Linked DNA regions of Homo sapiens. The protein of the gene in region 1 interacts with the protein of each later gene in a pairwise test. Each region holds a gene or a part of one and is shown in the gene's direction. Other genes may lie near its edges.

Evidence for each region.
Region 2: the proteins of ATXN1L (region 1) and RBPJ interact in binary tests that used the Homo sapiens proteins (3 or more experiments, as listed by UniProt).
Region 3: the proteins of ATXN1L (region 1) and RBFOX2 interact in binary tests that used the Homo sapiens proteins (3 or more experiments, as listed by UniProt).
Region 4: the proteins of ATXN1L (region 1) and PICALM interact in binary tests that used the Homo sapiens proteins (3 or more experiments, as listed by UniProt).

The regions. Positions count from the first base shown.
Region 1 is NC_000016.10:71,848,949-71,855,975, forward strand, and holds part of ATXN1L (ataxin-1-like), read left to right. Parts: intron 1-675; 5' UTR 676-792; coding exon 793-2,862; 3' UTR 2,863-7,027. UniProt on the Homo sapiens protein: Chromatin-binding factor that repress Notch signaling in the absence of Notch intracellular domain by acting as a CBF1 corepressor. Binds to the HEY promoter and might assist, along with NCOR2, RBPJ-mediated repression.
Region 2 is NC_000004.12:26,421,995-26,429,021, forward strand, and holds part of RBPJ (recombining binding protein suppressor of hairless), read left to right. Parts: intron 1-2,347; coding exon 2,348-2,485; intron 2,486-2,636; coding exon 2,637-2,749; intron 2,750-6,725; coding exon 6,726-6,866; intron 6,867-7,027. UniProt on the Homo sapiens protein: Transcriptional regulator that plays a central role in Notch signaling, a signaling pathway involved in cell-cell communication that regulates a broad spectrum of cell-fate determinations.
Region 3 is NC_000022.11:35,738,798-35,745,824, reverse strand, and holds part of RBFOX2 (RNA binding protein fox-1 homolog 2), read left to right. Parts: intron 1-1,575; coding exon 1,576-1,620; coding exon of another isoform or gene 1,621-1,630; 3' UTR 1,631-7,027. UniProt on the Homo sapiens protein: RNA-binding protein that regulates alternative splicing events by binding to 5'-UGCAUGU-3' elements. Prevents binding of U2AF2 to the 3'-splice site.
Region 4 is NC_000011.10:85,996,058-86,003,084, reverse strand, and holds part of PICALM (phosphatidylinositol-binding clathrin assembly protein), read left to right. Parts: intron 1-1,926; coding exon 1,927-2,050; intron 2,051-2,305; coding exon 2,306-2,442; intron 2,443-6,155; coding exon 6,156-6,259; intron 6,260-7,027. UniProt on the Homo sapiens protein: Cytoplasmic adapter protein that plays a critical role in clathrin-mediated endocytosis which is important in processes such as internalization of cell receptors, synaptic transmission or removal of apoptotic cells.

The DNA.
Region 1 (7,027 bases):
TCACACCCGTAATCCCAGCACTTTGGGAGGCTGAGGTGGGCGGATCACCCAAGGGCAGGCGTTCGAGACTAGCCTGGCCAACATGGTGAAACCCCATCTCTACTAAAAATACAAAGTTAGCCAGGCGTGGTGGTGCATGCCTGTAGTCCCAGCTGCTTGGGAGGCTGAGGCAGGAGAATTGCTTGAACCCGGGAGGCGAGGTTGCGGTGAGCTGAGATTGCACCATGTACTGTGGCCAGGGCAACAAGAGCAAAACTCCATGTGTTTTAAAAAAAAAAAAAAAAAAAAAAAAAAGCAAAAGAGCCAGCAGGAAAGACCATGTGTTCAAAGCCCCCTTTGGGAAGAAGGCAGAAAAGAGACAAGGTGCTTATGAGACACATGACTAACCGTGAAGCTGTTGGTCTCCCTGGGCTTGTGGAGCCCACAGGTTATTTGTGCATTGGTGAATGCGTGTCCCTGTAGCTCTTTGTGCCTTGTGATTTCCCCGACTGTTTCTCTCATGTCCCAGGCTGGATGAGTTGGGGGTAGCCTCCTTGTCTGCCCCTTTCTCTTTCCTCCTTATTTTCTAACAGTCCCCTTTGTTACATCTTCCTCCATGGCACAGTTCTTTCTATTTCCTTTGTCTTGGCTCATCCCTAGGTTACTTTTCTTTGCCTCTGATTTGTTCCCTAATAGATGTGGGCGCCCCAGCCAGAAGCAGAGAGGGGTACAGGGAAGCTACAGAGAAGCCCCTTCTGATGCCCCAGGGAGCAAGTCGACTCCTTCCAGGCTCCAGGAACACCACAAAGCAATATGAAACCTGTTCATGAAAGGAGTCAGGAATGCCTTCCACCAAAGAAACGAGACCTCCCCGTGACCAGCGAGGATATGGGGAGAACTACCAGCTGCTCCACTAACCACACACCCTCCAGTGATGCTTCTGAATGGTCCCGAGGGGTTGTGGTGGCTGGGCAGAGCCAGGCAGGAGCCAGAGTCAGCCTGGGGGGTGATGGAGCTGAGGCCATCACCGGTCTGACAGTGGACCAGTATGGCATGCTGTATAAGGTGGCTGTGCCGCCTGCCACCTTTTCACCAACTGGACTCCCATCTGTGGTGAATATGAGTCCCTTGCCCCCAACGTTTAATGTAGCGTCTTCACTAATTCAACATCCAGGCATCCACTATCCTCCACTCCACTATGCTCAGCTCCCATCCACCTCGCTGCAGTTCATTGGGTCTCCTTATAGCCTTCCCTATGCTGTGCCACCTAATTTCCTACCGAGTCCCCTCCTATCTCCTTCTGCCAACCTTGCCACCTCTCACCTTCCACACTTTGTGCCATATGCCTCACTTCTGGCTGAAGGAGCCACTCCTCCCCCACAGGCTCCCTCCCCGGCCCACTCATTTAACAAAGCTCCCTCTGCCACCTCCCCATCTGGGCAATTGCCACATCATTCAAGTACTCAGCCGCTGGACCTTGCTCCAGGTCGGATGCCCATTTATTATCAGATGTCCAGGCTACCTGCTGGGTATACTTTGCATGAAACCCCTCCAGCAGGTGCCAGCCCAGTTCTTACCCCTCAGGAGAGCCAGTCTGCTCTGGAAGCAGCTGCTGCAAATGGAGGACAGAGACCACGAGAGCGAAATTTAGTAAGACGGGAAAGTGAAGCCCTTGACTCCCCCAACAGCAAGGGTGAAGGCCAGGGACTGGTGCCAGTGGTAGAATGTGTGGTGGATGGACAGTTGTTTTCAGGTTCTCAGACTCCACGGGTAGAGGTAGCAGCACCAGCACACCGGGGGACCCCGGACACTGACCTTGAGGTCCAGCGGGTGGTTGGCGCTTTAGCTTCTCAGGACTATCGTGTGGTGGCAGCTCAGAGGAAGGAGGAACCCAGCCCCCTCAACCTATCCCATCATACCCCCGACCATCAGGGTGAGGGGCGAGGGTCAGCCAGGAACCCTGCAGAGCTGGCAGAGAAAAGTCAGGCCCGTGGGTTCTACCCTCAGTCCCATCAGGAACCAGTAAAACATAGACCTTTACCCAAAGCAATGGTTGTAGCCAATGGCAACCTGGTGCCCACTGGAACTGACTCAGGCCTGCTGCCTGTGGGCTCGGAGATCCTGGTAGCATCAAGTCTGGACGTGCAGGCCAGAGCCACCTTCCCAGACAAGGAGCCAACGCCGCCCCCCATTACCTCCTCTCACTTGCCTTCCCATTTCATGAAAGGCGCCATCATCCAGCTGGCTACGGGAGAGCTGAAGCGGGTGGAGGACCTCCAGACCCAGGATTTTGTGCGCAGTGCCGAAGTGAGCGGGGGGCTGAAGATTGACTCTAGCACGGTCGTGGACATTCAGGAGAGCCAATGGCCTGGATTTGTCATGCTGCATTTTGTGGTTGGTGAGCAGCAGAGCAAAGTGAGCATCGAAGTGCCCCCCGAGCACCCCTTCTTTGTATATGGCCAGGGTTGGTCCTCTTGCAGCCCTGGGCGGACGACACAACTCTTCTCTCTGCCCTGCCATCGGCTACAGGTGGGAGATGTCTGCATCTCTATCAGTTTACAGAGCTTGAACAGTAACTCAGTTTCTCAGGCCAGCTGTGCTCCCCCAAGCCAGCTGGGTCCCCCCCGAGAAAGGCCTGAGAGGACGGTCTTGGGATCCAGAGAGCTATGTGACAGTGAGGGGAAGAGCCAGCCGGCAGGAGAGGGCTCCCGTGTGGTAGAGCCTTCCCAGCCTGAGTCCGGTGCTCAGGCCTGCTGGCCAGCCCCGAGCTTCCAAAGATACAGCATGCAAGGGGAGGAGGCACGGGCTGCGCTGCTCCGTCCCTCTTTCATTCCACAGGAGGTAAAGCTGTCCATTGAAGGGCGTTCCAATGCGGGAAAATGAACCTCTTCCCCAGACCAGGACTGGGGCTTTACCCCAGAGCCTCGCCTCGCCGCCGTGAGCAGGCAGAGGATTTGCACACGCCGAGCAGGGAATGGCTTTCTTGGCAGTGAGATTTGGGGGAAAGGGGAGGCATGAAGTCAGCCTCCCAAGGCAGGATCTGTTGTTCATTACCCCATGGCATCCTTTCAGGACAACCCCAGAGGGTGTTGTGATGGGGAGCAGCAGGCCTGGGGCAAGGAAGGAAGGGGGTGCACACAGGAGAAGAAACATTCCAAAATCAGGGCCTCCCTGTTCTTTCCTCCCCATCCCTAGCTCCTGCAAGAGAAAGTCCAGGCTTTGGGAGCAGATGGCAGAGGGAGGGAGTAAAGAAAGAGCCAAAAATGATGATCCACAGCTTATAGTAGCAGTTAAACTGTCAGAAGTTTTTTTTCTTTTTTGTGGTAGAAGGGCAGGAGGCCCCAAGGTTGGAAATAAGAGGGTTCCCACCCAGAACCCTTCTTGTGAGAGATGCGCACTTTAAAGGGTGATTTTGTTCCAGATGTCTATGGCTGGGTGTGTGGGGGAGGAGCACTCTCATCTGCAGGACTCTGCTTGATCCTCTGCTTCATAGCCCTTCCCCATCTCTCCTCACCATTCTGCCTACAAGGCTTCTAGCAGCACGGGGGCCCGGAGGGAGAGCCCCTTCAGGGTTCAGAGTGAAGTACTACCTTGCCAGGGACTCAGTCAGGGGACTTTGGGAGAAAGACTTGATAGCCAGGCTGACTGGGTTCTAGGCAGGCCCTCTGGAAAGGTAGCTCACCTAACAAAGCTCCTCCATCTCAGCATGCCAGACCCACTTTGAAATCTCACAGAATCTTGCTGGTAATGGTGACTTTAGAACTAGTAGACCCTTTTTCCCAGGCACTGACCCCCCACCTTTGTCTGTGTTGTGCCCAAGTGCCTGCGCCACCCCCACCCTCCTGCTGCGCTGACCGCTGCATGGTGTCGTGACCTGGGCCTCATTTGTAGCTGCACTGCCTTTCCTTGTCTGCAAAGTTGGTTTTGTCCACTCTGACCAAGACCTCTAGTTTTTGGTGGGTAGGGGGTCTCTCTGGTTTCCCCTTCAGCTATAATCTCTATTTTTAAAATCTCAAAATCATGTCCCCTCCACTTCCACTGCCAAACAGCTTGGTGAAGAAACAAGAAGGGAACTATGCCCTGGGCCAGGGCGAATGCGTGGCTGGGCAGTGCCCATCATGGCATTTTCACATGTCCCATATGCCCCTCCTGTCTTATTCCACTGCTTCTCCCAGCATTCTGGTGCCTCCAAGCCATCCCCTCCCACCACCAGCTCTAAGATTCTAGGATAGTCTTGATAACATTTCAGTACCTGAATAGATGTCATTTTGTGTTGGTATATTCCTCTGCAAAAAGTATTTTCAATCTTGGTTGCATTGGCACCCCCCCTACCCCCCACCAATGTCTTAATCCCACATTTTCTTCACAACTTTTAGCATCAGCTCAGACCGTGGGGTTCCACTGGGTATTGGGAATTAGGCTCCCCCACTAGCTTTCAGGTGGGTAAGTTTTTTTGTTTGTTTTTTGGGGGTCTTTAGACTCTTGAAGGCAACTCAGGGTATTGTCCACGCAGCTCTCTGGTTAGACTTCTCCCAGGCTATGATCCTGGCATGTCCTTTATAAGGTATACTTGGATTGGCCGAGACCTGGCCTGGCATCAGGAGTCCAAACCTCTGAGGTCTGATCTCTGCTCTGTCAAGGACTTTCGGCAAGTCTCGTGACCTCTGGCTCTTTCACTTCCTCCCCACCTGCCAAATGGGGATAAATAATCTTACCTACCTCCTGGGGGGAGGGGAAGTTCTGAGAATGGAGTCATTCTTAGTGTTCAGGTGCTAAAGGTTGTTCTCCTGGGGGAACAGAGTGACTGAAACTGGCTTGTTTGCTACAAGCCCTACCCTCCACTCTTTCATTCCTTGAAAGCAGTTTGCCTGGTCAGTCAGCTTTTGGGGGTCCATCAAAGGAGGTTGCTGACCTGACCGTGAGTGCTTCAGTATCTGGTTTGTGTCAGAACCAGACGCCAACTTTGTACTGCATTTGGGATCATATCTTTCCCCTTCTCTGTCCCCCATTCTCTGAATGCTGCTTTCTCTGGCTTGTTTCCTACAGTGGGGGCCTGTGGGGTTGAGTCTTGAGGAATCCCCTCAAATGAGAAGGCCTTGGGAGAAGGCCTCATCTCTGGCTGTTTCATGAGCAACTCATTCCTAGAGTTCATTGTTTGCATGGGTTTCTCACAAGCGTCCTTCCTCATAGGAAGGCTCATCAACTGAATTTAGTGACATGTACACAGTAGATGCTCAAGCAGTGTCTGCAAGGACACAAGCTGAGCTTTCTCCTTATGGGGCAAACCTATGTCTAACCAGATACAGACCAATTAGTTTAGATCAAATCACCTTCCACTTGGGCTACTTGTGACTTTCCAACCTGGTAACTTCCACTGAATTCTGGAAAGAGAAATTCTTGAGGACCCTGGCAAGTTGGGCCCTGACCTTTCTGTTGCTGTCTCTTGCTGGTGAAGCAATACCAGCAGTTCCTGTAATACCACAATATCGTTCCATGCATATATAACATATTAATACTTGATTTTGCTGAGCTGCAAAGGTATCTGTCATAAAATATGGTCCCCAGGAAAAGAATCTCTGTGCTCTAAATCTCGGTCAGAGCTGTGGCCTCCCCCTTGCCTTTAACCTCTAGTTTAGTCTTTTCCTCCAGGCATGAAAAATATGACTAACCTGTGGTGTGTCCATTCTTCCTTATAGGAATTTCCTGAGTTTGCAGGAGACATGAGAGCAGTTTTTAGCGAGTATTTTAGTGGGAAGTTGCCAACTTTTTAAGAATGAGCAGTTGACAAGGGCCAGAGCCTGTCCCTTGTCAGCAGTAGGACATTTCCAGCTCTTAGGAATAGAAAGGAGGACTGCTGACTGTCTGGCGCTGTATAAAAATGTGTATACCAATTTGGGAATAGGGGAACCCAGTCATGGATGGATAATAAGCCAAGTCTTGAATCATTCCTATCAAGATTAGTATACATGAGGAAGAGGTGGCATGGGGGGAAGGGGCTCTGGGAGTTCAGAGCTGAGTACTTGTACCTGAGGGAGGGCCCCCAGCCAATCTGGGCTGGTCCTTCTATATTCTTGGTCCCAGTTGGTCATAACACCAAGGGCTTTGCCCTGCGCTGCTTTGCCACTGCTGCTGTCCGCTCACTGTCCTGCCTGCTGTCCTCTACAGCTCCCTATCCTTCCATGTCTTTGGCCATGTAGATTAAGTGTAGGCGTCCGGTTCATTCTTACCTGTGTTAGGCCATGTTATTTTATAGCGAAGTCATGTTCGATAGGGATGGTATGAAATGCTGCTGGTGGGCTGGTAAATCCAAAGGGATAAGGCTTCAGTGCTGTTGGGAGCCCTCTGGCTCCAAATGTCTGACTATCTTGAGGGAGAAACAAGCAGGTTTCTACTAGTGGTGTCTTCTGTTGTATTAACTTCTTTCCTTTGTGGTATCTTGTATCCTGTTTTAAAAACTAAATGAAGGGAACCACATTAGGGCCCATGCCAGCATCCCAGTGAAGTTCGTCCAGCTCCAGTTAGGTGGATTCTGGAGTTCGGAGAGGGTTTAAAGTTTGGCTGAAATAGCACCTCAAGTGGGGTTTAGTTTTATTTTTACCTGCGGGCATCATGGGCGATTTAGGGGGAAGCACAGGATGGTGGTGTGGTTTAAACCTGCAGCAAGCAGGCATGTTGAAGAGTTGAGTGATCACGCTGGAGATGAAGGGTTGGACATGGATTGACTGGGAAAAGGCCTGGGTCCATTGGAGTAAAGATAACCTAGTCGATTGAATTGGCCATGGGAAGTTAGGTCACAGTCTTATAAACAAAGTAAATAGGACAGAGACTAAGTTTTAGGGAGACATCTTGGCCTCCTAGGCTAAGTTTACTAAACCACACTGAAGCTATAGTACCTTCCAGATGGGCAAAAGTGTACACTACAGTTGAGGAGCTGAACCTTATTAGGTTGGATGTCGATCAGGAACCTGTTTGCCCTTTGCTGGGAAGCCTTCACTCTCCAGCTTTCCTGGGGTAGGGAAGGTCTCCCACATTATGCAATAATAAAATA
Region 2 (7,027 bases), on another chromosome or scaffold:
CTCACCTTTGTTTTCCTTCTATGTCATTTATTTGTTGAAGAAACTGGATCATTTTTCCTGTTGTGGAATTCCATATTCTGGGTTTGGCTGATTATATGTTTCTCTGTCTCTCTTACTTTCCATGAACTGGTGGTTAGACATAAAGACTTTCAGAACTGATTGGTAAGATATACATTTATTTCCATTGGATTGGAAGTCATAATATCTGATTATCCCCTTTTTTTTTTTTGGTCATGTTGAGATTGATTATAGTAGTTCAGCTGTTGTAAGTCTATTCCACCCATAAAGTTCCTCAGCAAACTTTAACCTAATGGTTTTAATAGTCATTGATGATGTTTAAATCCATTTCATTAAATGCTGCAAAATGGTGATATTCTAATTTTTTAAATTCTAACTTCTGCATTCGTTAGCTGGAGTTTTTTCTACAAAGAGGGACTTTGCCATATCAGCTATTTGCTTCAATTGTAATATGTAATGAAAAGGCAGGATTAGGTGCTTGTTTACTCATTTGCAGAATAATAACATTCCTTGAAAGTGACCAGTGGGGTTTTAGGGTTTTTGTTTTGTTTGCTTTCTTTTCATTTTGTTTTATTATGAGATCATGGTTTTTGTTGTGGTTGTTGTTATTGTTGTTGTTTTGTATTGGTTATATTTTAGTCCACTCAGTCCACTAATATCACTTAGTTTTTATTACGGAAAAATTTCAAACACTCTCAAGTAGACAGAGTTGCACCATACAGTGAAACCTCTTATGTTCATTCTCTAACGTCAACAGTGATCTTAACATTCAACCAATCTTATCTTCATCTATACCTGTACTCCAGCCCCACTTTCTTCTGCCCTTATTTTAGTTTGATGCATATCCAATCAGTGTTCAAATTTAAAATGGTCTAAAATATTTTAAAAATCAGATTGCTTGAATCAAAATTCAGATCTACCACTTAGTACAGTTTATATTGTGATATGTCCTTGAGTATAATCTATGGACACCCCCTCAACTCTTGCAATTTATTTAAGTAAGTTGAAACATTTAGTCACTAGAGATTTCCACGTACTAGATTTTGCTGATTTCATTTATTTGGTATAGTTTAATGTATTTTCTGTAAATTGGTAGAGTCAAAAAGAAATAGAGCGTGGGCCTAGTTGGAAAGACAGATTTCATTCAGTACTATTGCAATAGGGGAAAATAGAACCAAGTTCCATTTCAGAATACAACAAAGACACTTGGGGATGAAGCAGAGTGAGAGGGTCAATGGATGGAAACTTTCTAAAAGGAGACATCAAAGGTAGAAGGTTTCTTTCTGACCTGACTTAGGATTCCTGCTAAAGGCAGGCCAAGGTGATCATAGATCCAGAGTGGGAGATAGTTTAGGAGGATTCTTACTATATATAACTGAGCTAAACAGACTGATGACGGGGCTCAAGGACAAATACTAGTTGATTGCTCAGAGCAGCCTGCTTAAAAGTATGGTCAAGGAGAGAATCTTTAGTGTAGAATGGTGATCAGATTTAAGTTTGTTGTCCTTTGGTTCTTGTTTTCTTTCTGAAAAGCAAGACCTGCTTCAAAGGTGGTGGTGTGCTCTCTTGCACTAGGAGGTATATTATGTCTTGTATTCAGGCTATTTGCATTTCAGATTACACAGTTTTATGTAACTGCTTTAACTTTGTGTTTGTACTGAATATTAGTTTCTTGATGGCAGAGAACATATTTCACTTTCAGAATGTTTTTCTGCTTACATGGATTTATTTTCAAGAAATTTCATACAATACTTTATTTAGAAGAAAGCAGAATTTTCTGAAATCACAGTATGCAGAGGCATTTACCATCAACTCTGACAAACATCCTTCTGGTCCCTTTTCTATGCATGTATTCTGTGGAATTGGATGCAAACACATATTAAAAATATATACATTTGCCTAATGGAACCACAGCATACAGAGTATTTTATAGTCTGCTTTTCCATTCAGTGATATTCCAGGAAAATATTTTCTTATCAGTGTGTTTAGATACACATCCTTTCAATAGGTCATCATTTAAATTTCTACTGTCTAACATTATTTTAAAAGTAAGTTTTTCTCTAATAATCAGCACCACATTAAACATACTGTGTAGCTTTCACTTTAAAATTATTTTTATGGACATTTGATATCATTAGCTTGACATTATTAATAACAGTTACCTTGACTTTTTGATATCATCTGTACTGTCTTGGAAAGTGAAAATATTTGTCAAACTGTTAAATGATAAGAAAGAATAATTATACACTGCCAAGCAGAATTTCCTTCTTTTGCTCCCTCCCCACCTTCTGCTCCAATCACATAAATAAGAGCTGTTTTTTCTTTGCAGTATGCATTGCCTCAGGAACAAAGGTGGCTCTGTTTAATCGACTACGATCCCAGACAGTTAGTACCAGATACTTGCATGTAGAAGGAGGTAATTTTCATGCCAGTTCACAGCAGTGGGGAGCCTTTTTTATTCATCTCTGTGAGTATAAAAGTGTGCATTTAATGTTTTTAGTGTGAAATTGTTAAAATCTTTTGATGAGATACATGGATATATTAAGTTTTGTCATTTGCCTAATCATAAAATAAATTTAAAAAGATGACAATTTGATTTATTTTTCCACCTACTGCAGTGGATGATGATGAATCAGAAGGAGAAGAATTCACAGTCCGAGATGGCTACATCCATTATGGACAAACAGTCAAACTTGTGTGCTCAGTTACTGGCATGGCACTCCCAAGATTGGTATGGCTCTACTTTTGCTTTAGTGATAATGTGAAGTAAAAATTAATTTCTTAAACAGGAAAATCACAACATTCAAATGGAAAAACACACCTCAGTTTTATGCTTTTTAATTTTAAAAGGTATGTTAGTAATCAGTGCTGTTTATAATTGACAGTTATGCTCTACCTTATTTCAGAAATGCTTTAAGGTAATAGCCAGTTTTTACAAGTACATTCTTAATGATTTTTTCTTAAATGATTTCCAATATATTTTGGTGGCAATTTCCTTTTTGGCTGTTTATCTGAAGATGTTCAGTAGAGGGCACTATAAATTACATTTCTTTTCTTTACTAATGCGGATAAACCGTATTCATTTTTTTGTGGTACCTGCCATATCCCAATGTAGGACCAAGTTTGCAAACAGAAGACATTCTTATTTCTTTTGAAATATAAGCGTAATTTTTGTTAGCTTACTCTCTCACAAGAAGATAGATTTATTAAAACTGAAATAAAATTGGTATTTCTAACTGGGAGCAGGGCATAGGATTTAGGGCTTTTGTTCAATAGAAGACATTGAAACTCGGCCACGCATGGTGACTCACACCTGCAATCCCAGCACTTCAACAGGTGAAGGCAGGAGAAGGAGAAGTGACTAGCCCTGGCATCACTTGAGCTCAGGAGTTCGAGACTAGTCCTGGCAACATGGTCAGACCGTCTTTACCACTGACCCCGCCCCCCCAAAAAAAAAATTAGCCAGGCATGGTGGTGCACACCTGTAGTCTCAAGCTTAAGTGGGAGGATCACTTGAGCTCGGGAGGTCAAGGCTGCAATGAGCGGTGATCGTACCACTGGACTTTAGCCTGGGCAACAGAATGAGATCCTATCTCAACAACCACAGAAAAGGAGATCTTGAAATTGTAAAAACTACTTTTGTTAGTAAAATGAAAACAAAAGTCCTCTATAGTGCCACCACCCTCCCAATTTTCCCTCTCCTTTTCTCAAACAATATAATTTACTTATATTCAAGATGAAGGGGATTTATGAGTAAGTTTGATTCAAGGTCAGACTGAAGAGGTTGGGTGAGTAGAAGAACATTTAGTATTAATGTTCCTAAACATGCCTCCTATTTATCTTTTTGGTGCAATATTCCACTGGCTTATATTTTCTGGGGTCATTTCAGCAGAGGCTGGTTTGATCTACAGTTTTCTAAGCCAGTGATTCATTTCTTTGTTACTGTTTTTTTTTTTTACCCTCTGTCATGATTGTACAAGGTGATTTTATTTCCCATGTCAATGCAATAAGCTAGAAGACATGAAGTATAGTAATAGTAATCTGTAAAGCTTTGCAGCTGAGACAAATTATAATAAAAAGGGTAACGTTAGGGAATGAAGGGCATGAAAAACAGAGCAGGAGACAGAAGCAAGCAAAAAATCTGAATCAGCATTTATTCATTTTTTTTCTCTTCTCATTCATTTCCTCTGTTCCAAGGATGATGTTCATTTGCTTTGGTGTTAAATGCTTGTACTGCAGAAGCACAACTTAGGAGGATGATTCTGATCACCAATAGTTTATAATACAAACCACTTAGAAGACAGACCCAAATTTAAAACAATGTTTTCATTTACAGTTGTTTGTAAAGTACCAGTAGCCTGCCTTGCTTGAAAGTCATTAATTGAGGTTTTTACACTCAAAACTGTATGGCTTTATATAAAAATGTTGCAATGAAAAATTAACTTATTAGAAAAAGTTGCAGTACCATTATTAAGACGCTGATACATAAATCTTTCCAGGGGTTTCATGACAGGAATTCTGACATGCAAAGTCGAGTGCCTCTCGTCATTGAGTTTACATTTTGATAGAGTGATAAGCCAAATACCCATGTAAAGGATTTATGTAGTGATGAAAAAACAAAACAAGATAATAAAGGGATAGAGAATTGGAGGAGCGCTTAGAGAGGTCAGGGAAGTCTTTTTGAAGTCGCAGTATTTGAAGAGAGCCCAGAATGAAGTCAAAGAACCGGTAATTGAGTGAGGAGCATTTCAGGCAAACAGAACAAGTACAGAACTGAAGGCAGGGGATGTATGATGACTAGTAAAGAAACCAGTGGAGCTGGAGCGGAGGGAGGAGAGGTCAAGTGGCAGGAACTGAATCTGTAAGGTTAGCACTAAGCAAGACCTTGTAGGATCCCTCTCTGTATCTAGGGTAAGGACTTCATATTATCTCTGCATGTTAGAAGGCCACTGGAGGATTTTAAACGGGGCACGATGGCCTATTTTTGTTTAGAAGTATATGTGTGGCTGCTGTGTGGAGAAGAGAGCATAGCAATGCGGCCGTGGAAGCAGAGAGACAGGTGCTTGGATTGTTGTCATAATTGAGGCAAGAGTTGATGCTATCTTAGACCCAGGATCATAGTATTAAGGTGGTGAGGGGTGACTGATTTGTTGGAAAGTGGACCTGACAGAATTTGCTGGCAGATTGGATGGTTGGGTGTGAGAGAAAGCAAGGCATCAAGGGTGACTCTTAAGGTTTTTGGATTGAGTGAATGCTAGTGCCATTTATTGACCTAGATGAGTTGGGGAAGGATCAAGTTTAGGAGGAAATCCAAAAATCTGTTTTCGATATGCTAAGCTTGAGGTGCCTGTTAGACATCGTAAGTGGAAATGTTGAATAGGTAGTTAAGTGTACATACAAGTTGAATGCAGGAGAGAAGTCTGGAGATAATAAATTTGGGAGTTGTCAACCTTTAAATTTTTAAACAGTATAGATTATAAAGAGAGGAAAAGAGGGCTGAGAACTCAGCTCTGGGCATTTTAAAGGTCAGTTGGAGCAGTTGTGGTCCTGAAAGCAAAATGTGTTGAGAGCTTCTGAGAAAATGAAGTAAAATGAGGACAGAAAAGTGCCGTGAGATGCATCTGTCTGGAAATCCTTGGTGGCTTTGAAAAGCAGTTGTAGTGGCGTCTTTGAGATAAAAGGTTGGAGAGATTGCAGGAGATTGGACAGTGAGGAAGAGGCGTTTGCAGAAAAACAGGTAGTGAGAGGGAGGGACAGGAGCATGTAGTCAGTGTTTTCTTTACTTTTGATTTTGAGATGAGAGATAGTTATGTTTGTATGTTGTTGGAAGTGATCAATAGAAAAGGAAACAGAGTAAAAGTTCTGTGTCAAATTTTGCTCTTCATCATGATCATCTACTTAGCCATTACCTTCTAGGTGTCAAGTGTCATATAGGGTTTGATAGTATTATCTTTCAGATATTCATGTGTTTTGTAGACTAGTTGCGTTATAAGCTTTAGAGATCAGTTGGACAGGCAGCCAGCCCTGGGATCAGGACATATTCTGGTCCTTCAGCTACTAAACTGGTAATTTTGAGCAATTTGTCTGACCTTTCTAAGCCCATTTTGTAATCTGTAAAATGAGTTTGATTTTGTTATGTTTTTAAATACGTAAGTTTTGGATAATAGATATAAGACGTTTGCACTGACAGTAGCCTTCTAGAGATTTTTCCCTTTGATGTTGGAGTATTTGTCATTTTATGCATATTATTGGAAAATATCATTAGAACTTGCTGTTCAAAATATGGTCTGTAGGCCAGCAGCATTAACATCAACTGGGATTTTGTTAGAAATGCAGAATATCAGGCCCCACAAGAGTCCTGCTAGATCAGAACCTGTGTTTTTCACAAGAACCCCAGCTCATTTATGTGCACATTAATGTTTGAAAAACACTGATCTAGAAAACAAGTGCCTGCCTGCCTGATTTTTTTTTTTTAGATGTTCAGGGAAGAGGGTAACAGTTTCTACATTCTGACATGCTTGCAATCTAAAAGTGTTTTTTATTCCTAGTCTTTTTGTTTGTGAATGTTTTTATATATGTAGGCATAGGACAAATAACTGTGATGTATTATTATGCAGTATATAGCTTCTATGTACTTTTGATGTTTTACACAAGGAAAATCCTTTCCATGTGTGGATGACCTTTTATTTCTTAATTGTTAAATATAGATAATTAGGAAAGTTGATAAGCAGACCGCATTATTGGATGCAGATGATCCTGTGTCACAACTCCATAAATGTGCATTTTACCTTAAGGATACAGAAAGAATGTATTTGTGCCTTTCTCAAGAAAGAATAATTCAATTTCAGGTATGTTTTTAAATTACTGGTGAAATCTAAAATGTACAAACTGTGAGGTTAGCAGCTTGCAAAAATATGAAATTTTCATTTGCTGTTAATTATATACAAATACATGAAGCTATACACAGATATTTATCTCAGGTATGAGCATCCTTAACACACAATCCTCA
Region 3 (7,027 bases), on another chromosome or scaffold:
ATCCACCATCAAGGTATTAAAGCCACATAGATCTACCTGGAAGTTTCATGTCACCCTCTTTATTTGTGTGTTATTATAATGTGAGCCACATGGCCTAGTTAAGGGCAGCAGAAAGGAATGATCATTGATAATATGCCCCGAGTAGTGGCATGATTTGCGAGAGAAATAGGGGAACTGGTGAATGTTTTCTATTGGTTCAAATGTTGAGTGCATACCTGTGGCATAGTTTCATTGATAGGTGTTGGCAAAGGAGCATGGAGCATAAGGCTGTAGTATTCACAGTAAGCTTTTCAAAAACTTAAGTTTCAAATGCAAATCTAAAGGATGTCTCTGCTCTTCCTAAGCCTTCTGGTAGATAGTACTAGAAATTCCTAAGTGAATGCTTTATAGGATATTTTATTATTGATTATTGATAACAATTGTGGCAAAATATGGTGTTGTTGATAGAAGTATCGAAGAAGTCCATAGAACTAGCATAATTTCTTCTGACCAACCACCTCACTGCAGTATTATTGTGTTGGCTTGGATGCCTCCAGTTTCAGTGATTAGGACTCACAGGCTGCAACAAAGACAGGCCATTCCACAGTGACACCTCTGCCAGGGCTTTCTCTCTAATCCAAAATGCAACTGGGCAACTACCTCTGGACATGGGTAGAGTTGTTTGAAAAGGAGACAGAATGAAATGTAAAATGTAAGACCTAAAGGAATATGAGAAAGCTACTTCTCACACCAAATTTCTACTGATGAAGATTTGTGGAAGGAAGTAATAGGGGGCCCTGAGGGAATATATGTTTATAAATGAAGTAGAGCATTACAATATAACGGCAGTGGTAGAAGTGCCTGAGGTTGTATTTCGTCCTAAAATGATATAAGTCCTATGCTAAAAGAATGACCTGAGAAAGATGCATTCCTGGGAAACTTCTAATTGAAAGAGATAAGCCATTAGATAAAGTCATTTGATAAACATAAAGGAATAAAGCCTAGTTAAAACCCCAGCTAGATATGTAAATGTGAATATGTCAAGAAACAGCCTAGTTGGTGTGCTTCGTAGATGATAGAGGAAACAGACTTTATTAAAGACTGGCTCAGGTTTAGATGTGGCACCATCTCAAACATGGGCTGTGACCACACATGGCAGGGATCGTGTCAGAAGTAACGTGCACTGCCGATGGGTCATATGTGAGAAGGAGAAACTGGTGATCTGTTTTCCACCAGGATTATAAGGCTGTATCAAGGTAAACAAAAACCTGTGCTTTTAAAAATCAAACTCTTTGCGGAACTTGTTTTCAACTGTGTATTGTTTCCCTTCTGTGCTAATTCATGTAAATAATGAAATAAAATGTCGTCATACTCTCCTTGAGAATATCAGGTCAGCAATAAATGTGTTGGGCTCTGGTCTGAGCACCTTAGAAGCAGAAGTTGGTTTCCTGACTTCACTGCACAAGGCAATGCTTGATCAGTTGCTTTGAGGCTTCGAAGCAGGCTGTTTCTAGATCCCTCTCTGGACATTTTTCTTCACTGTTAATGCTTCTCTCATCAACCTTTTAATTATTTTTATCTCTTTAATTACTGCAGGCGAGTTTATACCGAGGTGGCTACAGCCGATTTGCCCCCTACTGAAGTGACGTGAGACCCCTGCAAATGGGACAGCCCCCCAGTTCATGAGGCCTGGCTATTGCAATATTTACTAGTAGAGGAACTCTATAGCAAGATGAAGAGGAAAAACAAACAAACAAACAAAAAAAAACACAAAAAAAGAAAGAATACTTTTTTATACCTCACTATGTTCTTTGAATATGTATTTTTCCTTTAAATTTCTGCCTTTAATTCTTTTGTTCCAAAGATTGTGCATTTTTTTCTTTTTTTTTTTAAACTGTGGTAAAAAAAAAAAAAATAATGCATTTCCATGTCTGTATGTCCGTGCTTAGCTTATTCTATCAATCACGGAAGAGGCAGTCAAGGAGGAAGGAGAGACATTAGGAGCCGATAAATGCATCTGATCAGAAATCAGCAGACAGAATTACCAAAGTGTATCTGGTGCTGAATGACTGGGGGACAAGCAGAAGTGGAAGAGATCTTTCTGCAACAGGATATTCTTCTAGTCTTCTGAGTTTCTGGTCTTTGACAGGCAATTCTGGTTGGCTGTGGCTGGAATCCACATGCTGATAGATAGGAATTTGTGCTTACAAAGCAGGAGAATTAAAAAGACGCTTTCCTCTCCTCTTCCCTCCTGTCTTCTCCGTTCTTTTTACAATCATCTTACACGCACAGCCTGAGACAGCTGGCATAGTTTTTGGAATTATAGTATTGATATTTCCAAACGTGCTCTCAGACAGTGGATAATAAACACCTCATTAGGAAACCGATCTCAGAATGAACTCTGGAGTATGAAAAAGATCATTTCTTTTTGTTCCTGTAACCTAGCATTCCTTCTAGGCTTCTTCTCCTTTAATTGAACCACAGCTTAGCTCATGTATTCTTTTATTAACACCCTGCTCTCATGTCCATAAGATTCAGGAATTTAGGACCCAGGGACAGAAAAGTGAATAAGCCAGTGACCAGATTTCCCCCAGATGTCTTGAGGATTAGAAGTACAAATTGTTGACAGCCATTAAAGAGGGTGAGGAAGGGAAAAGGAATATTAGAAGATCTGGTATTTCTTACTTTTTTCTTGCCTCAGAAAGTACAAAGTTTAAAAAATAGAATAAAGAATCTGCTGGGGAAAGATAGAGTACCAGGTCCTAGGTCAGTAGTCCCTGGAAGTTTTGGTGATGAGGACATGGAAGGGCAGGCAGAGGCACTTTGTACTTGCTCCAAAGCCATAGGAATTTTCATCTTCCAGAGCCTTTATGAGTCACTTCTCTATCCACAGTCTTGAGCCTGTGGCTATCCCGCTGAGCTTCTCACTGTCCTCCAAAAACACCCCGCTGAGCACCCGGACCACTTTGTACACATTAACACTACAGGACATAAAATGCAGAGGCCCTGAGATTGCTGCCCTCCCATATTGGAAGGAGGGTCTGCGATGGCAAGGGTCTTCTATATCACCAGAAAGAGTCGCGCAGTGAGTCACTGCCGTTGCCATCTGGCTGTAATTTTCTATGTTATCAAGGTAGGAGGGAGTGTTTCTCTTCTAGCTGTTAGATAGAACTGATAAAAGCAAGTGTCCTACAGCATTTCCCAAATGAAGGCATTAGGAAATAGAAAAGCACGGTCTTTTTGGCTCCCTGGTCTAGTCACATTGGTACTAGGGTGACCTTTCACCCAAGGGACAGCTGCTAAAGGGAGTAATTCAGAGACATGGAGCTTCTGGTTATGGGTTTGTTTTGGGTTTGTTTTTAACTCCTGCCTCCACACATGTTCTTGACTGATAACTGACTCATGTCCCTGAATTAAAATGACTGACCTATGACAGCATCAAGCATTCTTTGTAAGCAGAGTGATATATCTGAGAGGGCGTTGACCTGTTGTGTAGAATACATATCCTTTCCCCCTTCAGAATCCTGTCTCGCCTCGTAACTGGGAGAGAGGCTGTGCCTGAAACTAGGGGCGATGTCAAGGAAGCTAGAGGCCTCGATGCAATTATTACTGACTCTGGGGAGGAAGACAGAGAATAAGGGGACACCAACTGCCCAGTCCACTGGCCATTTTTAAGGGTCCCCCCACCCCAAGCCAAAGTTTGGTTTGTTGCTGTTAAGACAATTTTTGTTGTATGTATATAAATATTTTAGTTAGAGGAGCGGGGAATGGGATGCGGGCTTTCACAGTTCTAGGGAATGGGGGCAGGGAGGATTTTGCTTTTGCTTTTGCTTTGAGGGAGAACTTTAGCTGACTAAAAAAACAGAAGTTTGGGGTCATGATCACAAAGGGGCCATTCCCAAAAGATGGCAAGCCACGTATTCAGTGGAGACTAGGCCAAATTCTAAATGGTTTTATCCATAGCAGGGGAGAATAGGAGAATGAGTTTAAGAGTTTTTCTCTTCTTTTTTCCTAGAAAGAGGTAAGGATAATGGGAAAGGTAGAGAAGGCGGCTCCCACAGACCTTTTAAGAGAGGCAGAATCTTGAGCTTGAGGCACCTTGAGTGCATCTCAGTTCAGCTGGTTCTGGCTGAGGCCTCCAAAGGCAAGCTCTGTGCTTTCCAGTGGTTTCTGCTGCATTTCCAGGGATGGTGTTTAACACCGCTTCCTCCAGCTCCCTTTTCTAAGAAAGAATAAATGGAGTTCTGCTTTTTATGAAAGGGTCTTTGGTTTTCAGTGTCAACACTGAGAATTGGGGCTCTTGCAAGCATCTGGATTTCACAGTATCAACCTCCCCGTCACCTTTTGAACTTTGAGACTCCGTACGGTCAACTTCACCAGAGGCAGGTTGCTCGAAGCAGCACTGCTTGTCTGTTCCTGACTCTGGTTCTCACTGTATTAAAAAAGAGAGTCAGAGGAGTCTGGCATTTCGTGAGTTTGTTAGAGGATGCTGGCTGATAATTCCAGAAAACTTACTGATGCTAAATCACAGTACATGCATGATTCTTTTTCAGCTTTACTATAGTTCATGACCTGGACTTTCTGTACTCTTGGAAGCTGGGCTCCTTAAAGGAGGCCTCTAGTGAACACCTTTATCTCCATGTCCCTCTTAGAGCCCAGAGAGCTGCCCATAGGCATTTTCCAGAATTCCTCATGTCACCTAGTTCAATTTCCATTAACTCAGATCAGCCATTGTGATTCACCATTTGTCAGGCTCTCAGGTTTAACAAAACCTACTATCACCATCATCCTTCAACAGCCACAGTCTGAATTGAGCCAACATTTTTTTTTCTTTGAGAAAGAAGTGGACTGGGGCACAACTTTTAGTCTGAGGGGAGCTAGTGGAAATCTAGACAATAGAAGTCATCGATAGCAGCTTTTCCTCAAATGTGTGACTCCTCAGGGGCTAAACTGCTCTTAGCTTAGAATTATGCTTTACTAGAGATCTAGCAGATAAGTGGGTTAATCACTACCATCCTGTAACTAGTTATATAGCTTCCAGACATGAGGGAGACATCAAACAGGGATGGAAGCAACCCCAAGGATATGCAAGAAGGGCATGATGAACCCCCTTCCCTCTGGCAGGAGAACAAGGCCAACCAAGGGACAGACTGGAAAGCACTTAGATGTTTAAGGAGGAGAAAGGGGAAGCTTTGACCAGTCCTTGCCTTTTGCCAAGTTCAGCCAGTTCTCCGCTGCTTGCAACCTCTAGCGCAGTAACATTTGCAGAATTGCAGATTTTCCCCCAGATACTAGGAGGAAAGGGACTTTGGGGGGTGGGGAAGGGGTCGTGGTGTTTTAAAAGCATAAGTTACCTGTTTGCACTGTTTTAAGATAGGAAAAAAAAATAGTGGGCAAGGTGAACATCAGACGTAAATTTGTGTGTTTTTATTTTGTCATGCTCTTGAAAATGTTTGACCATTTGTAGTATACACAGTGAAACTTGATTCTCTGTTGCATAAAACACTATATTTTTTTGGAAATGTTACTGTCCAAAAGCCTCTTCCCTCCCTTTCCTTTTCCTATGTACTTCCTTCATACTTGCTTTACTGATCAGCCAGGCAATAGCCATCCAAGAGCTAGAGCATGAAACAGGGCCCTTTCCAAGTAGGCTCTGGGTGTCCTAAGCCAGCGTGTGCCCTCTGGTTTAGTGAGTGTAATAGAGTCCCTGGCACCTTTCTTTGCAAATGAGGCTAACAGACCAGACTGCAGCAAGTTATCAGATTCCTCAATCAGATGCACTAGGAGTGAGGAGCCCAGGGATGGAGGGGGTTCCTGAAGTATTGCAGTTGGCTGTAGTAGCTGAGTTCTTTTCCATGTTACCGAAACTGTAGCCAGTTACAGTTTACTCAGGAAAACGGTAGATCAATTCAGCCATGGTAGTGCTGGTTGGCAGGGATTGGTAACGGAGAGAACTGCTCATCAGCCAAAACTCAAGCCTTGCCTTTTAGGAGGCCACCAGCAGAGGGACTTGGTCCTCCTTGTCTGGTACTTGTGTACATGCCGGTGACCTGAGGACTCCACTCACACTGGCGAGCAAAAAGGGAGCAGTGATTCTCTTTTCTCTCCCCACCCCCTGCCCTTTGTTACCAACACCAGTTTCCCAGGGGGTACATGAGTTTCTGAATTTTTAAAAAATGTTTTTGGTTTGGTTTTTCTGGGGACTGATAAGTGCTTTAAGCAATGTCCATACCCCGTCAAGACTCCCAGCTTAGTCATTTTCTTGTATTTTTCTGTTCACAGTATTTGTGTGTGTGCTTGTTTTGGCAGCTCATTTTGGCTGTATTATATATTGAGTGATGAATTGATCCTCTTTTTTCCCTAAGGGATATGAATTGTTTTTCTTGTGTTATATTCTGCTTGTGAATAGCTGGAGCAAACCTGGGGCTGACACGCGTAAGCTAGGGCTGCAAAGCGAGAAGAGAGCCGGTGGAGTGTACTTGTCCCTGACAGGCTGACCTACCTGAGTCTCTGAGCTTTTCAGTCCAAATCTTTGCAAGGCTCAAAATGCCACAGAACCTCTCCTCTTCTCCCCACTCCCCATGGCAGGGACCGGACCATCCCTACATGCAACATGCTGTTCCTCCAGCCCCTCCCATTGCCATGGCAAAACAGGTACCTTTGGGGCATGGGGGCATTACATGGGATGCTTGTGTAATCGACCACCTAGCCTTCTCTCTCCCCTCCCGTCCTCCCCCAGAATCACTTCCTAGGACACCCGAGCTGCTTGCCCAGGGTCCTGTTTCCCTGCTAACTCCAGAGAAGCATCCCAGGGCTTTGTGACAGTCTCTAATTCCCTTCCCTTCTCGTTAAGAATCATATTGTATAGTAGCTTTCAGACCATACAGTATTCATTGGGTTACTCCTATTATTATCAAGTAGCTGGAATTGTGAAGGTCGGAGTAGTTAGATCTTTAGCTTTTATTCCTTATTTTTTTGTATTACTCTCCATGTGTATAAATTATTGATCATGTTGCTGGCTTTTATAAACTCTAAGCGAAGGAGGAGC
Region 4 (7,027 bases), on another chromosome or scaffold:
CTCCTAAAGATGCTAATGCATTGTTTTATGTGGTGCTTTGTAGTTATAAGATACATTTTTTTTTTCTTCCCCCGAGGCAGAGTCTCACTCTATTGCCCAGGCTGGAGTGCAGTGGCACAATCTCAACTCACTTGCAACTTCCACCTCCTGGGTTCAAGCGATTCTCCCACCTCAGCCTCCCAAGGGTGGGACTACAGATGCATGCCACCACGGCCGGCTAATTTTTGTATTTTTAGTAGAGACAGGGTTTCACCATGTTGAGCAGGCTGGTCTCGAACCCCTGAACTCAAGTGATCTGCACACCTCAGCCTCCCAAAGTGCTGGGATTACAGGCATGAACCACCGTGCCAGGCCTATAATTGCAAGATACTTTCGTATTAATTTGCTCAATCCTCACAATAGCCCTGTGAAGTATGTAGTAGCAATGCTGGGACTCAAACCTAGAATATCTGACATCAAATTGCATCATCTCTGCCTAATGCCAGTTCATGGGGTTGATTATTGATATTTTATATTTTAATCACTTTATTATGTTTTAAGCTAATTCCTCAGACTAAGACCATTTAACCTAGCAAATTGAAAGTAACAGAAATCATTTCATATCAGTCTGGTAACATGATTTTTGTATTGGGTTAAGAAATTACTTGAGTTATTCTCATGTTTTCTTATGAACCTTTTTTTAAAACAGCATGAAGAAAGAATTTGTATAGTGAGAACCTTCCTTTGGTTCTTTTTAGACTTTCTGGTTGTTTCAGAACTTTTGATCTTTCTTTTAGTAATAAAATTTAAATAATTTCCAAAGGGAAATGCCGTTATTGGATTTTAGTACTCATTTTTAATCCTAGATTTGTACTTTGAATTTTCTAGTAAGATTTTCGAAGTAGCAGTCAAAACAATAAGTCTCATTTATTTGAGAGAATAACGAAAAAAAGAGCCACGTAGTTCAGGTGCACCAATTTACCTGAAATGTTTATCATAAAATTTATTGGTTTTCTTGCATTTCTGTCACAACTATGTTATTCTTCCTTTGTCTTCTGAATTGTACCTTTTTATTGGCTTATTTATAATACTAATATTACATAAAATTTAAAAGGTAGTTTTTACCACTTTACGTGCTTAAGAGTAGAAACTAATGATGTTTGGTGTGTGGTAAAAGGAAAATTAATAAAGCTCAAGGTAGTTCTTCAGGTTAGAATTCTTTACCACTTGTTTTACTTAGCCTAGAGTTAACATTTGGAAAGTTAATGTTGAGGTTTATAGTGTGGATACGTTTTTGATAAAAGGGAAAGGAGGTGCCTTGCCAGTGAAAAATGATACATTGTACATGTATATTAAAAAGGAAATTCTGGTTTGGCAAAAGGGCAGCACATAGAAAGATGCCAAATGGCCTGATGACTAGATTGAAACCAGTCTTCTTTTGAAGGAACCTGAAGTCCTCTGGGGATGTTGTTATAGGTGAAACATACCTAGACTTACGTTACGTGTTACTGGTATGCATGTTTTGGTGTTCCTGTGGCACTGCCGAAACGTAGGCTGTAAATTAGCAGAGGGTTTTCCCTGTGATAAACTCAACACTTTTTCCCATCAGGGATTTTGTGGGATTATGTGGGCTCTTTCCCAATTGCACTGGTTTCCTCTCTTGGGGCTTGGAAGAGGCAATGTGCCCCACTCTGTTGTGAACCCTTTCCAAAGTCAAACACTTACTCTGAAAGCAGTGAGTGTATATTAAGTCAAGATTTTTCTAATTGCTTTAATCCTGTAGATCACTAGGTAGAATATTTCATCTGAAGTACTGGATTTGAATCCAGAAGTTAAGTTTATAATTATAGTGCCTATCCATGGCAAGGTTGCCAGACCATTTCATGACCTGGGTGTAATGTGAAGTGTTTAGCAAAAAGCCAAATTATCTCTGTTCAATTATCCTAGGGCAACTACACTTTCCAATGCAGTGTCTTCCCTGGCAAGCACTGGTCTATCTCTGACCAAAGTGGATGAAAGGGAAAAGCAGGCAGCATTAGAGGAAGAACAGGCACGTTTGAAAGCTTTAAAGGTAAGTTTGTGCATTCTCCTTATTTCGAAAAATGAGTACAGGTGTTCATTAGGTAAATGGGGCCTCTGCACAGACTTAGAGTCTTAAATGTATAGCTACCTAATGGGCTGAAACTCAGTCTAACTTTTCGTCCTGACATAGAATTAGGTAAAACAGAATATCTGCTATCAGAACAAATTAGAAAATGCTTTTTTCAGAGGCTGTACAAAGAAATCTGGTTTCTGGAATCCTTATGGTAGTTCCCTTTCTTAACAGGAACAGCGCCTAAAAGAACTTGCAAAGAAACCTCATACCTCTTTAACAACTGCAGCCTCTCCTGTATCCACCTCAGCAGGAGGGATAATGACTGCACCAGCCATTGACATATTTTCTACCCCTAGTTCTTCTAACAGGTAGGAGTAGAAGTTAAGGTTACCTTTGAATATGTAGGTTCAAAGACTTCTAATAGAAATTTTGCAGAACTTTTCAGGTTTACTTTTATTTATGCTTTTATAATCTATTCACACAAAGAGGTGGCGATAAATGGTGATATTGGTATAATACCTAAAGATAAAGTGATGAGTTTATATTTTACGTATTTACGAAATGGAAGATAGTTAAATCACTGATTTATACTAATAGGAATATAGCTGTTATCTCTGGGCCAACTTTTCATTGTGTAAAAATTATGATTAAACACATTTATGAGGCATCTAATGGTTCAAGACCCTTTATAGCTCTTTGACATATGGATATGATATATATTTCAAAATACCATTTCATTAGATATTAAACGTCTGTCATATCTGTTTCCTGGTTTTAAACTCTGTAATCTGGAACACAGTGACAGAGTTTAGTTGCCAGGTTTCTTGGTATTGAAGCCTACCAGACTAACTTTAATAATCTTGTTGTCTAATTTAAGCTACTTAACATGGAAATATAATATTGCCAGGTAAAGTAAAACAATTGGCATTTTCTGAACCTCAGAGTGGCTTAAAGTAGTTTTAAAAGTCAGATTCTGGTTTGAATCCTGGCTCTGTTAGTTCTTAACTTTTTTTGAGAAACCTTGTTTTCAGATGAGACTGTGGTTCTCAACTTTAACATCAGAAGCATTTGGAGAGTTTATTAAACTACAGATATCTGAGTCCCAATCCTAGAGTTTTGATTCAGTAGGTGGGGCCTGGGGCCCAAGAATTTTTGTTTTTAAGATGCTCCCAGGTGACTAGGTTTTAGCACAGTGCATTATTAGCACATGTTAAATGTTCCATAGAGAGTGGTGAGTTTTTTCCTTTCACTTTGTTGTTGCTGTTTATTAACTCACCCTTAAAAGCTCATCTGCCTGCCTACTGACTCCTAATAGCTGAGCCTAATAGCTCAGTGTAAGTTTTACTACGTGAACTGCTTGCTGTATGCATGCTCAGTTGCTACCTGCTCCCTGAAATCTTAGTAGGTGTTTGTTGAATTTAGTTCTTTTTTTTCTTTCAGCTTTATGATTTGTTTGCTCATGTATGCTACCTTCTTTAATCCCCAGTTAAGTAACATTGACCCCATTAAGGGGCAAGTTCTCAACATGGAGATCTTGAAAAGAAGTCTGTCCTAGGAGAAAGAAGTGAAAAGAATGTTCATTGTTCGAGGCTGAAACAAATTATTGGATAAAGAACTAATTTCACTATGTTTTATGTCACATACTAAAAATTTTCACCTTTTTAATAGTAATTAAGGGCAAATCTTACAGCCCATTTACAGAATTATTATTGTATATTCTATATGTTCCCCAAAGCACTAAATGCGTTTATATCTACTATCTACACAACTATTGTACATCTAAAAGACATGTCTTCAAAACTTTTTTATAAAAATACAGTTAGAAGGAATAAGTTCTAGTGTTTGATAGCACAGTAGAATTACTAATTAAAAACAATTGTATTACCTATATCAAAGTAGCTAGAAGATTTAGAATGTTCTCAACACAGAGAAATGATGAATGTTTGAGGTGTGATAGATGTCCTGATAATTACATGGTATGCATGTATCACAATATCATATGTATCCCATAAATATGTACAATTATTGTATATCCATTTAAAAAGAAAAACATTCTATTTTGGAGAATATATAAGTTAAAAATTAGGAGCTGGGTGTGGTGGCGTGTGCCTGTTGTCCCAGCTACTCAGGAGGTTGAGGCAGGAGGAAGGCCTGAGCCCAGCCGTACAAGCTAGCCTGGGCAACATCTCTTGGTCTGTTTGTCTGTTTCTCTCTCAATCTCTCTCTCTCTTTTGAGACAGTGACTTACTCTGTCACCCAGGCTGGAGTGCAGTGGCACAGCCATGGCTCACTGCAGCCTCAACCTCCTGGGCTCAAGCATTCCCTCTGCCTTAGCTTCCCGAGTAGCTGGGACTACAGGCGCACTCCGCAATGCCCAACTATTTTTCGTATTTTTTCGCCATTTTGCCCAAGCTGATCTTGAACTTTTGAACTCAAGCAGTCCGCACGCCTCAGCCTCCCAAAGTGCTGGGATTACAGGCATGAGCCACTACACCCAGCCTCCAGACCCCTTCTCTTAAAAAAATTATCTGTACTGTGTTTGAATTCTTAGACACTCTGGGGTCATGTTTTGAGTTGTTCATTAAAATCACATAGAAGTCGGCCGGGCATGGTGGCTCATGCCTGTAATCCCAGCATTTTGGGAGGCTGAGGTGGGCGCATCATGAGGTCAGGAGATCGAGACCATCCTGGCTAACACGGTGAAAGCCCATCTCTACTAAAAATATAAAAAATTAGCCGGGCGTGGTGGCAGGCGCCTGTAGTCCCAGCTACTTGGCAGGCTGAGGTAGAAGAATGGCATGAACCCGGGAGGCGGAGCTTGCAGTGAGCCAGGATCGCTCCACTGCACTCCAGCCTGGGCGACGGAGCGAGACTCTGTCTCAAATAAAAAAAATTACATAGAAGTCTTGAGGTAGAAATATATCATGTAAGCCAGGCATGGTGCCTCCCGCCTGTAATCCCAGCACTTTGGGAGGCTCAGGTGGGTGGATCATCTGAGGTCAGGAGTTCGAGGCCAGCCTGGGCAGTGTGGTGAAACCCTGTCTCTACTAAAGGACAAAAATTAGCCAAGCATGGTGGCATGCACCTTTAATCCCAGCTTCTTGGGAGGCTAAGGCATGCCAGTCACTGGAACCCAGGAGGTGGAGGTTGCATTGAGCCAAGATCACATCACTGCACTCCAGCCTGGACAACAGAGTGAGACTCTTGTCTCAAAAAAAGCAAAACAACAACAAAAAAAGAGGCTGAGCACAGTGGCTCACGCCTGTAATCCCAGCACTCTGGGAGGCCGAGGCAGGCGTATCACCTGAGGTCAAGAGTTTGAGACCAGGCTGGCCAACATGGTGAAACCCTGTCTCTATTAAAAATACAAAAATTAGCCGGATGCGGTGCTGCGCACCTGTAGTCCCAGCTGCTTGGGAGGCTAAGGCAGGAGAATCATTTGAACCTGGGAGGCAGAGGTTACAGTGAGCCAAGATCACGCCGCTGCACTCCATCCTGGGCGACAGAGCGAGACTCTGTCTCAAAAAAAAGAAGAAAGAAATATATCATGTAAATAGTGTGTTGTGTGATGGGGTGGCTCTATTCATAAATGCATGTAAAATTTTTTCCCTGTATCATTGATACATAGTTTGGACACTGAGGCACTAGAAGTGAGGTTAATGAGTATTTTACTGTGTAGTGTATTGCAAATGTGATTCAAGTTCTGTGAATATTAAAAGTAAGAAAAGAGTTTTATTAAAAATATTAAAATTGCTGTGATATTTTGTATTTTAGAATCTTGTTGTTTAGGTTCATTTTAATAGGGAAATTAGTTTTTTCTAGGGGAAGACATTCATCCTTTTCAGAAGAGCTACTGTTCTTTGAATCTTATATAAACTTAAGATATGATATTAGATTATTTTTCCAAGCCTCCTTAGAAATATGCTGTCATATGAAGAAACTGTTCCTCTTTTGAGATTTATATTAATGAGACTTTTCTCCCTTGTTTTTAATGTTTTTATCTGTGGTGGGTGGAGAAGGTGACACTAAAGTAGCAAAGTTTTTCTGGTAAATAAAACACGTTTCCAAAATATCTTTCTAGCACATCAAAGCTGCCCAATGATCTGCTTGATTTGCAGCAGCCAACTTTTCACCCATCTGTACATCCTATGTCAACTGCTTCTCAGGTAGCAAGTACATGGGGAGGTAAGCATTGATGAATTCTATTTTAGATGTTACATGCATCTCTCCTCCTCATTCTGTGGTGTTTACTTATTTGTAGTTTTTTATTACACTTGATACATGAGAACTTGATAAGTATTAAAATGGCAATGAAGCAATTTTATCCCTTGAAGGTATGTTCATTTATTATAAATAATTTAGGAATTTATGTTCAATTAAATTATGAAATGACATTTAATAAAGATAAAACTAAATGTAAGAGGAAGGACCAAGTGTGTTTTTAACTATGAGATTATTCTTTTAATGTTGAATTTTTATTCCATAACCAGAAAATGCATGGTGGTTATTTCGATTTTGGTGTAGAATTTTTTTTTTTTAACTTTTGGGGAATAACTTATCTTTGTGTTAAGTATATGATATAGTTCTAATAAAACTCAGATGGTATTATCACACAGGGAACATGTTGTGACCATAATTGTCTCGACCAGCTTTATGGTCAAGACATAAATGTTTTAAATGTTTTTTTAATTAAGACCTGAAAGATTTTGCTAGTCAAAGAATTTTCCCCTTGTACCAATAAGAATGTTTGCTGCCCTTAAGCAGTTCTGAAGTGATAGGCTTATCTCTCATAGCAAGATAAGTTAATTATTCTAATGAGTTTTTATAGTATATAAACAAAGCTTTTTTTCATTTTATTTTAATGATTTGAATTTAAGAACATTTTAAATTATTTTTTTGAAGGAACTATATCCTAGAAAGTAAGCTCTGTGAAGGCAGGTTTTAAAATATTTT